2 linked regions of the Homo sapiens genome follow. The protein of the gene in region 1 interacts with the protein of each later gene in a pairwise test. Each region holds a gene or a part of one and is shown in the gene's direction. Other genes may lie near its edges.

Region 1 (7,035 bases):
AACCAGGGAGGGGATTGGAGGCCTGGGAGAGAGCCCTAAGTGATGGAGAGAGGGTGGCTGCCCCCCTGGTCTTCCCTAGGACTCAGTCTCTCCTGAGTGGGACAGAATCACTTTCCTGCAATTGATGAAGACAAGTCGAGTCATAGCATCTTAGGAGGAGCTTTACTGTAAGGGATAAACCTTGATTAAGGGCCTTCTCAGTGCTGGGCCTATGCTAGTCACTCCCCCTGTCCTCAGGAAACTTGAGGGAATCTGGGAGGGACGGGGATGTCAAGTGTTTCAAAGGAGGAAGGAGAAGATGCCAGCGGAGCTCGTGTCGGGGAGGCCCAGAGGAGGAACCGACATTTCCTGAGACGGGAAAGATGACTCCGAGGTCTCTGGGCCTGAGGAGGGGTGAGCGGGACATCTGAGACCAGAGCTGGGAGGAAGAGAGCCATCCTGGGGCGGCGAGCCTGGGGCCTTGCAAGGATCCCCTCACAGAATGGGGGCCTTTATCCAAGAGCACTGGAAGGCTCTGGCAGTTTTTGGTGACACTGGGGTTTTAGTTTTTTATTTGTTATTAAAGACAATTTTTTTTTTTTTTGAGACAAGGTCTCACTGTGTCATCCAGTCTGAAGTGCAGTGGTGCATTCATAACTCACTGCAGCCTCAACCTCTTGGGCTCAAGTGATCCTCCCACCTCAGCCTCTTGAGTAGCTGGGACCACAGGTCCCCACTCCACACTTGGCTAATTTTTTTTTTTGGTAGAGACAGGGTCTTGCTGTGTTGCCCAGGCTGGTCTTGAACTTGTAGGCTCAAGTGATTCTCTTGCCTCAGCCTCCTGAAGTGCTGGGATTACAGGTGTGAGCTACCACACCCAGCCTCCAAAGTGTTGGGATTATAGGCATAAGCCACTGCTTCTGGCTGAGATGGGGGTTTTAGAAAGATTTCTGAAAGGGAGGATGAAAGATTTCTGAAAGGAGGGAGGCTTGTTAGGAGGCTGAGGGAGGCAGGTGGAAGGACTCGCTGTGGGAAGAATGCCGGTTTCTTAGTTTCTGGCTTGGATAATGGATGGGATGAGCTGCCATTTAGTTAGTTAGTTTCTTTGTTTCTTTTTATTTTCTTTTTTGAGACAGGGTCTTGCTCTGTTGCCCAGGCTGGAGTGCAGTGGTGTGATCTCGGCTTACTGCAACCTCCACCTCCTGGCTTCAAGCAATTCTCATCCCTCAGCCTCCTGAACAGCTGGGATTACAGGCGTGCGCCACCATGCCTGGCTGATTTTTGTATTTTTGGTAGAGATGGGGTTTCACCATGTTGGCCAGGCTGGTCTCGAACTTCTGGCCTCAAGTGATCCACCCTCCTCAACCTCCCAAAGTGTTGGGATTGCAGGTGTGAGCCAACCGTGTCTGGCCACCATTTAGTTTCTTTCTGTCTGTCTGTTTTCCTTCATGCATGCAGGTGGTTAAAGAGAAACTGGAACAGTAAATGGCAGTATGTATAATGGTTAAGAGCAAGACCGGAGGCTCAGGTAGGGGTTGAATCCGAGTGGTATGGCACGGCTTCCTCCAGGCCCAGTGAGGAGGTCATCGTGGTAGACTGGACAGCACAGGTGTCTTGAGGACAGAATGAGTCAACACACATGCAGAGGGCTCAGAACTGCCCTGGGCCTTAGTGCCACCGCCAGCTTTGGCCTCGTACCCACACCTGGCCAGAAGTCCTAAGAGGGTCCCAGCACCAAGGACCTTTGGGAAAACAACCAGGGGACCAAAAGCCTACTACCTTGATAGTGGAGCTCCAGGCGCCTCAGCCCCGCCCTTCTCTGTTGCCCTCTAAAGAGAACTGGGCTGGGGTTCTGCCTGTCTTGGCTACAGCTGCTCCTGGAGACCCGGCGTGCCCAGGCCTTCGGCCCGCACGTCCCTTTCCCAGCACTGTTCTTGTTGCAATGCCCTTCCCTGCATCCACAGGAGAAAGGATCCAGGGTTCTATGCAGCGGTTGTCAGGGCCCAACACAAAACTTCAGGACCCTACATAAGCCCCAGATCCCCACTGGAGACCCCAGGGTGTGGTAGAGGAGAATCTGAGTAAGGCTGCGGCTTTCCCTGGAGAGATGCACAGCCGTAGAGTCCTCGGCTTAGAAGGGATTCCCCAGGGGACTCCTCCAAAGGGCCGAGAAGGCTTCTGAGGATCCCGCCCGTGGGGAGGATGGGCCGCCAGGCCACTTCCTCTCCATCGCCGCCTCGATCCCCATGGTCGTCTCCTCTGGGCGGTGTCCCCTATAAGGCGGCATCCCCTGTAAGGTGGCCTGAGCATGCATCCCTTCCTCTTCCTCTTCCACAGCCAGTTCATCAAAGCCTACAAGACGGGCAACATGGACCAGGCGCTGTCCCTGTGGTTCCTCCTGGGCTGGATTGGCGGAGACTCCTGCAACCTCATCGGCTCCTTCCTTGCTGACCAGCTGCCCCTGCAGGTGGGCCGGTACCCGGGCAAGGTGGCGCTACCCCTAACCCTGCTTCACCCTGCAGGGTTGCCTGAGGAGATGCCAGGCTCTTTGGCCCGCCTGGTCTCCAGAACCCTGACCCGTCATTCCATCTTGTGGGAGGGCCCCATCCTTCTGTCTGCCGAACTGTGACTGTGGGCAGGTCACTGCTCTTCTCTGGGCCTCAGTTTCCCCATCTGCAATATGAGCATGTCTAACAGGAAGGTTTCGGGGTCTTCCACCTCCAGGGTGCTGGAGTGCTGGCGAAGCTTTCAGAGGGTGGGCCCCTCGAGGAGAAAGGGAGTTTTTCCGTGGGAGGCCCAGATGCCATCCTGCTCCTGTGGGCAGGCAGAGCTGGGGCTCCCAATCAGGAAGGCATTGTCTTCCCATGTGGGACCAGAAAGTTCTGACTGCCCTGGTGTCAGGCCAAACCAGAGCCATCACTTCACCGCGGAGTCCCACTTTGTCCTGACTGCTAGCGCTGACCACCAGCTCATTGGCCCCTCCTGGGCTAGATCCTTTCCTGGGTCTTTCGCCCACCTGTTCTGTCATTCTGCCAGGTGGGAACTGGGAGTTCTTCCTTGCCAGATAAGGAAACAGAAGCTCAGAGAGGAGAAGTGACTTGGTCCGGGTCACCCAGCTGGGATATGACAGAGGGCTGCCGGGGCGTGGTCTCAGATCCTGGGACTGCGCCAACCCCTGGGCCCCCTGCATCTCTTACAGACCTACACGGCTGTGTATTATGTCTTGGCAGACCTGGTGATGCTGACGCTGTACTTTTACTACAAGTTCAGGACGCGCCCCTCTCTGTGTGAGTATGGGGACCGCTCTCTGTCAGATGCTCTACCAGCAGCAGGGGGCAGTTGTGGGGGGGGGCGCCTGGAGTGTGGGAGGAAGCGGGTTTCCCATGGCTGGGTGATAACCCAAACCTCGGAAAGCCTTCCCCGGGCCTTATCTAAGAGCCTGAGCCTTAACTGGCCAAGATAGAGGCTTGAGGGCAGTGAGCGCGTCCTGGCCCAGACCACAGGCCGGTTCCTCTCGCCCAGGGGCTCATTCAGCAGACACAGCTCCAGCTCCTCCTCTGTGTCCGGCCCTGGGCTTGGAGCTGGGGAAACGAGGGCAAGTCACACAGGCTGCCTCTGCCCCAGCCTTCAGGAGGAGCAGGAGACAAGGTCAGCTTGAGGCTATACAGACACGGGGAGGGACCTGGGGAGGAAGTTGTCTCATCAGCGTTCCTGCTTCGTGTAACCCCCTCCTGACCTCCCTGCCCTCAGCGTTTCACCTTTATAACTCTAGGAGAAGGGTACTGTTGTTGTACCCATTCGACAGATGAAGAATGAAAGCTCAGAGAGGTTAGGTCACTTGCCCAAGGTCACACAGCCCCTGAGGGGCAAGGCCAGGACTTAGCACCCTCCCCCGACAACCGCTGCCACTCAGCCATCTAACCTCAGCTTCCCCCTGCCTTGTGTGCAGTGTCTGCCCCCATCAACTCCGTGCTGTTGTTCCTCATGGGGATGGCGTGCGCCACACCGCTGCTGAGTGCTGCTGGGCCCGTGGCTGCCCCTAGGGAAGCCTTCCGGGGGCGGGCGCTCCTGTCCGTGGAGTCGGGCAGCAAGGTGAGGCGTGGGCGTGGCGGTCGAAGGGATGGAGGCTGGCTCATCCCCAGGGCTCTCCCCTGCACAGCCTCATGGGTGCTAAATGGGGTGGGGGATCACCTCTGGCTCCTACGAGACACCAAGTGCCCCCTTCTGCCCCACAGCCCTTCACCCGGCAGGAAGTCATTGGCTTCGTCATCGGCTCCATCTCCAGCGTGTTGTACCTGCTTTCCCGGCTGCCTCAGATCCGCACCAACGTGAGCCTCCAGCAGGGGCTGGGTGGGGCCGAGTAGAGGAGAGCTGGCCTGGCCACCCGGGCCCTCTGGGCTAAGGAGTAGCACAGCATAGGAGCCTTGGTTCAGAAAGTCTGGTCTACTCCCGCTGTTGGCTTGGGCAAGTTAATCCAATCTCCGAGCCTCCATTTCTGCTTCTGGAAAATGGGCGTGGCGTGGCCTGCCAGCCAGGCTACAAGAGGCCCATGTGTGTCTTGGGGGAGTGGGAGGTCAGGGGAAGGTGAGGGGCTGAGCTTGGAGGCCTGAGGGGAGAGGAGAAGCTGGGGAGTCGGGGAGGGGAGGCTTGCTGGGCAGCTAGAGCCTGTGTGGGGTGGAATGCAGGGTGGTGTGGGGCCACAGGCCTGGCACAGCCACGGTCTCCCGTGGACCTGGGCAGGGGCCTGGGGGGGCTTGTCTGTGGGTGGGAGGAGGCTCTTCTGTGTGTCGGGCCCATATCCCTGGGCACCCAGGGAAAGATTGGCTCAGAGCAGGTGCACTGTGGTGGGGCAGGTGGACATGTGGACAGTTACAATCCAGAGTGACAAGAGGCCTGTTCGAGGTCTCTGACCTGACCTCCTCCTGCCCCAGTTCCTCCGGAAGTCCACCCAGGGGATCTCCTACTCTCTGTTCGCGCTGGTGATGCTGGGGAACACGCTGTATGGGCTGAGCGTGCTGCTCAAAAACCCCGAGGAGGGCCAGAGCGAGGGCAGCTACCTGCTGCACCACCTGCCCTGGCTTGTGGGCAGCCTGGGCGTGCTGCTGCTCGACACCATCGTATCCTTCAGGGCGTGTGGGGCAGGTGGCGGGGTGTGGGCAAGGAAGCTTCTGCCTGCACACAGCGTCAGCACTCATCCGTCTCTTCCTCCCTTCATCCATCCGTCCATCCATCCATCCCTCCCTCCCTCCCTCCCTCCCTCCATCTGTTCACCCAGTCGTGCACACCTCCTGTGTGCCAGGCACCCAGCTGGACCCTGGAGCCGTGAGTGAGCAAGAACAGCCATGAGTGCCCCAGAAGCTTACAGCCCAGCGGGGCGCAGAGAGGACACAACGCTATCATCAAAGAATTACTTCATTGCAGTGGCACCAAGTGCTGCAGAGAAAAACAACAAGAGCGTCTAGCCAGGGACCGTCCTGGTTAGAGGGGCAGCAAAGGCCCCTATAAGTCTCATTGAACCTGTGACTTGACAGAGTAGGAGAAGTCAGGCGAAGGCAGGAGAGGAATGTTCTAGGCTGTGCAGACGAGAGCTGGAGTGTGGAGAGACACATGACTTGGTCAGACAAACCTGGGTTCAAATCCTGGCTCCTCCCCTGCTTCCTAGCTGTGTGACGCAGGGCACACAGTCAACCTCTCTGTGCTGCCGTGTCTTCACCTCAGTTAACAGCCACTGTCTCGTCAGGATGTTGTGTAAGATGAGGTATCTGGAAACACTCCCCACAGGACCCCGTTTTCAGTGAGGGCTCAGAAAGTGTTTGCTGAATGGCTGTAAAGAGCGTTACCTGGGTCTCATTTCGGAGCAAGTAAACATGGCCTTTGTTTTAATATTTGTTAAGTCCCTGCCGGGCGCAGGGAGGGGTGAAAGTTTAGGCTCTTGTGCCCCAAAACGGCCCAGCCACCTGGAAGCCTCCAGGACGCCACAGCTGAGAGCAAGCGAAGATCCTGGGCCAGGGTCAAGGGAGGCTGCCCACGGGAAGGAGAAGTCAGTGCTAGGCTTGGAGACAGATGGAGCTTGGCTAGGGCTTGAGGAGCCGGGCAGAAGTTCTGAGTGGAGGGCACAGCTAAGGTAGCGGCTGGGAGGTTATGGCTGGCCCTTCCCACCTGCAGCGTGGGGGTGGGAGGGAGGGGAGAGGGAGGCAGCTCCCAGGAGTCGAAGGCCCCCAGGGGCAGGTCCAACCCAGTCTCTGCTCAGCTTGGCCTTAACGGCGGCACCCCCAGATCTCCATCCAGTTCCTGGTGTACAGGCGCAGCACCGCCGCCTCGGAGCTTGAGCCCCTCCTCCCCAGCTGACCAGAACCAGGCTGAGCGCAGGAGGACAGGCACCACCGGATGCCACACCAGGCAGGAGGAGGTGTGGACAGTGATGGTACGGCGGCCCTGCATCAGCCTGCGGGTGGCCTCTGGATCCTCCGTGGACCGAACCGTCCCCCCAGGAACACACCTTCAGGTAGACCCCGAAGCCTCAAGGCCGGGGCTGGAGCGGAGACCCCAGGGCCTCTCAGGAGACAGTGAGGCTGCCCCTCCTACCACCTACCTCATTCTGCCTACTCACCCCAGGGGCCACAGCCACAGCCTGCTGGACTCAGGACTGTCCTGTCAACTCCAGACAACTGAATAAACAGGCCGGGTACAGTGGCTCGCACCTGTAATCCTAGCACTTTGGGAGGCCGAAGCGGGTGGACCACTTGACGTCCGTAGTTCGAGACCAGCCTGGCCAACATGGTGAAACCCCATCTCTACTAAAAATACAAAAATTAGCCAGGTGTGGTGGCACACATCTGTAGTCCCAGCTACTTGGGAGGCTGAGGCAGGAGAACTGTTTGAACCTGGGAGACAGAGGTTGCGGTGAACCGAGATCGTGCCACTGTACTCCAGCCTGGGTGACAGAGTGAGACTCCGTCTCAAAAAAATAAAAAAGATAACCGAGGAAACGGTACCTCCCCATGAGACCTGCTTCTGTTGCTCCTTCCCCAAGGTGCTGAGGGATCGGGGCTGCTT
Region 2 (7,035 bases), on another chromosome or scaffold:
TTAATACAGATAATTAGTATGTCATGTCATTTGTGGCTTTCTTAAATTGACGGTCAGATGGTCTTTTCCAGCTGTAGGTCTTAAAATGCTAAAATCAGCATTCATAATATCTGTTTATTATTAGAGTAGATGCAATGCATTTTGAGCTATTAGAATAAAAAATGAAAGTTATATATAACTTAAAGACATCCTAGAATTCAACTAGGATTTCTATCTCCTAGGAACTAAACATATTTTCTAGGTAAATTATGCCATTATTATGGACCAATGTTGTAATGAAACTAGTGAGATGGTAAATTTGTAAAAATAAATTTCATTCACGGGGGACTGGAAAGCACCATTTCTTTCCTTAGAAAATAATTCCCCAAACTCCTACACTGGATAAATGACTTGCCTTTTTAAGGAAGTCTGGCTTTCTTAGAGGCTAGTGTTACTGTTTTACAGTTCACTTTCGTTTACATCAGGGGTGTCCAATCTTTTGGCTTCCCTGGGCCACATCAGAAGAAGAATTATCTCAAGCCACACATAAAATACACTAACACTAAGATAGGTGATGAGCTAAAAAAAAAAAATGCAAAAAAAAACTCATAATGTTTTAAGAAAGTTTATGAATTTGTGTAAGGCTTCATTCAAAGTGCTCCTGGGTTGCATGCGGCCCACGAGCCATGAGTTGGACAAGCTTGATTTACATGAAAAGATATGCTTTTTATTCATGTTTTTAATCTTGCTGCTGCTTTCTCATTCAATACTTTTTCTAAAAATATCTCAGAACAGGAATAAAAGTCAGATGATCAATTATGGCAAGATTAGTATTTAAAAACGAGTTAAAATTAGGTAGTCTGAAATTGCAGTAGTGGTGGGGTCTACCTGCCAGATGTGCCCACCAAGAGGTTTATGTGACATTGATTTCTCTGTCAGTTTCTCCTCACCCCAAAACTACCTTTCTTGATACTTTTGTGGCCTTCTTCCTTGCCCTTTGACCTGGCAACTGTACTTTCATGCCTTAAAAATTTATAAAACAAAGGAAAAAAAATCCGATTCTCAAATGCAATTATAAGTAACTATGATAATCAGGATGTAAATTTTTTCAGTATACAGGAAAGAGAAACACTTTTAACTTTTAAAGGAGGCCAGCCAGGTGCTAAGTGGCTCACGCCTGTAATCCCAGCACTTTGGGAGGCTGAGGTGGGCGGATTACCTGAGGTCAGGAGTTCGAGACCAGCCTGGCCAACATGGCGAAACCCCATCTCTACTAAAAATACAAAAATTAGCTGGGCGTGGTGGCATGTGCCTGTAATCCCAGCTACTCAGGAGGCTGAGACAGGAGAATTGCTTGAACCCAGGAGGCGGAGGTTGCAGTGAGCCGAGTCCCACCATTGCACTCCAGCCTGGGGAACAAGAGCAAAACTTTGTCTCAGAAAAAAATAAAAATAAATAAATAAAAATAAATAAATAAAGGAGGCCAAAGCATGCTTTACACAAAGGAAGCCCTGTTTGGTAAGGGAGTGAGACCCGTTGGTTTATAGTTAACACTGTCTTATGTTTTTTCGATTGAATTGCTAATGAGTAGTTTTCTTTGGCTCTAAATAACAATGTTACATAAGTAGGTTGAGAGCCTATATTACCTAGTATAAACTCAGTGCTGCTGCAGTTGATAAATGGAGCTATGATACAAAAACAGATGGCTCAAGTGGGATTTCAGATTGATTATCTGAGGGTTGTTACTCACCTGAGTATGTCTCCTCTTTGTCACAGAGCTGGTAACAGAGAGCAAGCTGTTTTTGGCTCAGAGCTCTACAGCAATATTCCTCAAACTGCCTGGTAAAGGATCAGTTTTTGTTTTTAATTTTTATTTCAATCCATACCAATACACTTATAAAAATGAAATAGTAGGAAAATGAAGTGAAAAAAAGACATAGAAAATACAAGCCCAAATGTATTGTTAAATTCAACAGATAAAAAATTACTACTATAATTGTAATAATCATATTGCTCTAAAAATTTCTGAAGGCTTTATCTCAGTTGCCATACTTTTCTTATTGCAGACCAGTTTGAGTTATAATGCCACATTTTTCATGTATTAAAACAGCAAAGCAGGCCAGGCGTGGTGGCTCACGCCTGTAATCCCAGCACTTTGGGAGGCCGAGGCAGGCGAATCATCTGAGGTCGGGAGTTCGAGACCACCCTGACCAACACGGAGAAACCCTGTGTCTACTGAAAATACAAAATTATTTGGGCGTGGTGGCACGTGCCTGTAATCCCAGCTACTTGGGGGGCTGAGGCAGGAGAATCGCTTGAACCTGGGAGGCGGAGGTTGCAGTGAACCAACATTGCGCCATTGCACTCCAGCCTGGGCAGCAAGAGCAAAACTCCCTCTCAAAAAAACAAAAAACAAACAAACAAAAACAGCAAAACTGGATGTAGTGGCACACACTGGTTAGTCCCAGCTACTCCAAATGCTGATGTGGGAGGATCACTTGAGCCCAGGAGTTCAGGGTTGCAGTGAGCTATGAGTGTGCCTGTGAATAGCCACTGGCAACATAAGGAGACCTACTCCCTAAAATAACCAACAGCATAAATCCATAAGTTGGCAGATGAAAGTAGTGCTATTCTTAGGATGATTTTAAAGATGAATATGATTAATAATGCACTGATTTCAAAAGGGACTGTCTGAGACAGTATCATTCAAAGTCAATGTTACTACTTGAACAAGCTATTAAAATCCAAATCTCTTCTGTTAAATGACCTTCTAGGATTGTTGTGAGGTTGAAATAATATAAGCACAGGCTTAACACTATGTCTAGAACATAATAAAAACTTTCAAAAATATTGAGGCAGATTCTCAATACTGATTAGAAAAACTTGTAAAGATTTTCATTTTTATAACTTTGTTCTAATTTATAATTGTTAAACCTTTTATTTGGAAACAGACTTAATAATGGGAAGCTCCTCCCCCTCCTCCCCTTCGCAGTCATGGAAACTTCTCGGCAATTTGTTTGGAATCCAAAGGTCTTGTTGTGGGGTTTGGTTTGCATTACTATTTACCATTCTATTTGGAGAGGCCAGGGCTTTTCCTCTACCCTCCCTGCTTTATACTATTTTTCTTAGTATTTAACTCTCTTTTCTTCATTATACTTACTCTCATTTTAAGCTTTGTTTTGTTCTTTCGTGTTTTAAAGTTTTGTGTCTGTATTAGTCCATTCTTACACTGCTAATAAAGACATTTCTGAGACTGGGTAATTTATAAACGAAAGAGGTTTGATTGACTCACAATTCAGCATAGCTGGGGAGGCCTAAGGAAACTTACAATCATGGCAGAAGAGGAGGCAAACACATCCTTCTTCATGGGGCGGCAGGATGGAGAAGTGCTGAGCAAAAGGGGGAAAGCCCCTTATAAAACCATCAGATCTCGTGAGAACTCACTGTCACAAGAACAGCAAGAACTCACTATCACAAGAACAGCATGACCTCCCACCAGGTCCCTCGCATGGGAACTACAACTCAAGATGAGATTTGGGTGGGGACACAACCAAACCATATCAGTGTCTGATTATAATAACTGACTCATTCATAATAAGTATCTTTAGGGGTTTGAGTTACCCGCAAATCAAAGGTTTATTGTGTCTGAAGAACAGATTTATTCAGTATGCTTCTGCCTCTACAATAGGTTCTCTTTGAAGTAGATTTAACAATGTTACATTTTTAAGGACTTTTATATTGTCTGGTACATTGCTCTTACCCTCTTATGGTAATACAAGAGATTTTATACCTGTTTGGAATTTCATTTGTAAATTCTAAGATTTGAGCCGGGCATGGTGGCTTATACCTGTAATCCCAGTGCTTTAGGAGGCTGAAGCTGGAAGTTTGCTTGAGGCCAGGAGTTTGAGACCAACCTGGGCAACAAGTGAGACCCTGTCTCAGATGAATGAACGTAAATTATAAAATTTTAAACTTTGCAATCTCAGTAAATTTATCCATATCTGGAAAGAAATCATCAGCTTGTCTTTTCTCAGATTGAACTACAGATTATTGTTTCATAAGGATCCTTGATAAAACTAAGTTTGGATCAAATAAAATCCGGTTGCAATATGATTCAATATTATTTTCCTGAAAAACTTTGTTTTCTCCAGGATACTATATTGATAAACATAATTAAGACTTATCTGCATAATAATATTAATAATGTTTATTGAGCTCTTTCTGTATACCAGGCAATGATATGCACTATCTTATTAATCCTCAGGACCAAGACTATGAGATACTGTTAAACCTCACTTTACAAATGAGCAAACTCAGGCTTGAAGAGGTCACAGACTCTGGTAGAGGTGTGATTTGGAACTAAGTCATTTTGATTCCTGTTGCCAAATCAGTCACTTGACTACTAAATGTTGCCTTTCCTAATGAATGCTGTGTAAAGAAGGAATGAAAATAGGATCTACCTAAATTGATGCCTTTAGCTCCCCAAATTAGGAACATCTTTCATACCTTCCACAGTATATCTCATGCTTTCTGCCTAGTCAGTGGAGTAGAACTTGAAACTCCAGAGGTAAACAGTCTCCAAATACCATTGAAACCTATAAGAAATAAGTTAATATGTCTTAGATGCCTTTTAAATTAACACCTGCCAATTTGGAATCTGAAGTAGTTCCTATTGTGAACTATCCAAGATGAATTTCACACTTGACATCCTCACAGGTTAGTCGTAAATTGTGCTGTTCAAGAAGTGACATCCTTTTCAAGAGAAGATGACATGAAATGGATTCAGAATGTTTCTGTATATGATAGTCTTAACCTCTCCTCTAATTAAAGAATTTAATGATGAGACTTTTGTTGAATGATAAGATCCCCTTCAGCTCAGTATGGAATTCCACACTGGGCTGAGCGCAGTGGCTCACGCCTGTAATCCCAGCTACTCGGGAGGCTGAGGCAGGAGAATTGCTTGAACCTTGGAGTCGGAGATTGCAGTGAGCTGAGATTGTACCATGGCACTCCAGCCTGGGCAACAGAGCGAGACTGTCTTAAAAAAAAAAAAAAAAAGTAGTAGTACTAAGTATGAGTACTGGTATTTCTTAAAACCTATAATGAAATTACAGAAATCTCAGTCTTCCTTGAATACTAATATTCAGTTTTTAACTTATTGAAATAAAATGGAAATAAATATTAGTTAGACTGGAAATTCTTTGTTTTTTTTTTTTTTTTTTTTGAGATGGAGTCTTGCTCTGTCGCCCAGGCTGGAGTGCAGTGGCGTGATCTCAGCTCACTGCAACCTCCCCTTCCCAGGTTCAAGCAATTCTCCTGCCTCAGCCCCCCCAGTAGATGGGATTACAGGTGCGTGCCACCATAACCAGCTAATTTTTTGTATTTTTAGTAGAGACAAGGTTTCACCATGTTAGCCAGGATGATCTGGATCTCCTGGCCTTGAGATCTGCCTGCCTCGGCCTCCCAAAGTTCTGGGATTACAGGCATGAGCCACCACACCCAGCCCTGGAAATTCTTACATGGAAATTCATTTTTAAATGAAAAGGTCTTGAGGGTAACTAATAGATAATTACATCAAACTATCTATTGCAAACCCTGTATTTATCTGACGTTAATTTCCTTCCTTCCTTTCTTTCCTTTCCTTCCTTCCCTTCCTTCCCTTCCTTCCTTCCTTCCTTCCTTCCTTTCTTCCTTCCTTTCTTCTTTCCTTCCTTCCAAATTTCACTCTTGTTGCCCAGGCTGGACTGCAATGGCATGATCTTGACTCACCATAACCTCCGCCTCCCAGGTTCAAGTGATTCTCCTGCCTCAGCCTCCCAAGTAGCTGGGATTACAGGCATGCACCACCACGCCCCACTAATTTTGTATTTTTAGTTAGAGACAGGGTTTCTCCATGTTGGTCTCAAACTCCTTACCTCAGGTGGTCTGCCCGCCTAGGCCTCCCAAAGTGCTGGGATTACAGGCGTGAGCCACTGCGCCCGGCCAATTTTCTTTCTTTTTTTTTTTATTTTGAGACAGAATTTTGCTGTTGTTGCCCAGGCTGGAGTGCAATGGCACGATCTCGGCTCACTGCAACCTCCTCCTCTCAGGTTCAAGAGATTTTCCTGCCTCAGCCTCCCAAGTAGCTGGGATTACAGGCGCCTGCCACCATGCCTGGCTAGTTTTGTAGTTTTAGTAGAGACAGGGTTTTTCCGTGTTGGTCAGGCTAGTCTTGAACTCCCGACCTCAGGTGAATCCGGCCTCCCAAAGTGCTGGGATTACAGGCATGAGCCACCGCACCCGGCCCTGCTATTATATTCTTTACGGTTCTCTCTTAGTCAATTCCTCATCATTCTAGTCCCCTTTTATGCTTTTATAGGTATTCCTTTTTTCTTTCTTTCTTATTTTGAGATGGAGTCTTGCTCTGTTGCCCAGGCAGGAGTGCAGTGGTATGATCTTGGCTCACCACAACCTCTCTCTTTGGGTTCAAGTGATTCTCCTGCCTCAGCCTCCCAAGTAGCTGAGATTACGGCTGCCTACCAACACGCCCGGCTAATTTTTGTATTTTTGGTAGAGACAGGGTTTTGCCATGTTGGCCAGGCTGTTCTCAAACTCCTGACCTCAGTTGATCAGCCCGCCTTGGCCTCCGGAAGTGCTGGGATTACAGGTATGAGCCACCATGCCCAGCCCCCTTTTGTAGGTATTCTTTATGTTAAACTTTCTCTCTTCAAATTACTTTATGCTTTCTCTTTGATGAAAGGACCCTGACTGATAGAGGTAGGTAATGGATCATAAAATCAAATAAGGCTGAACAGAGAATTAAGCCTGGAGTAAAATAAGACAGCCCCAGTGTCATGATATATGGCAGCTGACCTTCAGTGTCAGTGCCTGGGAGTCATTAGGGAGAAGTGAGAACTGTGGGCATCTAAAGGGCACATATCATTTGATGACACCAAATCTTCCTATTTTTCCAAAGCTAGAAATCTGGATTTTTATATGAAGTCTCCTGAATTTTATCCTTTGGCTACTTATTCAAATATTGTATCAGTGCGTGGGCCAAACAACCCATGTTTGTGA

What was found. The genes of interacting proteins can lie anywhere in the genome.
Region 2: the proteins of SLC66A1 (region 1) and SLC39A9 interact in binary tests that used the Homo sapiens proteins (3 or more experiments, as listed by UniProt).

Annotation. Positions count from the first base shown.
Region 1 is NC_000001.11:19,322,317-19,329,351, forward strand, and holds the end of SLC66A1 (lysosomal amino acid transporter 1 homolog), read left to right. Parts: intron 1-2,316; coding exon 2,317-2,446; intron 2,447-3,178; coding exon 3,179-3,266; intron 3,267-3,928; coding exon 3,929-4,071; intron 4,072-4,214; coding exon 4,215-4,307; intron 4,308-4,910; coding exon 4,911-5,096; exon of another isoform or gene 5,097-5,254; coding exon of another isoform or gene 5,255-5,305; exon of another isoform or gene 5,306-6,255; coding exon 6,256-6,327; 3' UTR 6,328-6,984; downstream 6,985-7,035. UniProt on the Homo sapiens protein: Amino acid transporter that specifically mediates the pH-dependent export of the cationic amino acids arginine, histidine and lysine from lysosomes.
Region 2 is NC_000014.9:69,401,666-69,408,700, forward strand, and holds part of SLC39A9 (zinc transporter ZIP9), read left to right. Parts: intron 1-7,035. UniProt on the Homo sapiens protein: Transports zinc ions across cell and organelle membranes into the cytoplasm and regulates intracellular zinc homeostasis. Participates in the zinc ions efflux out of the secretory compartments.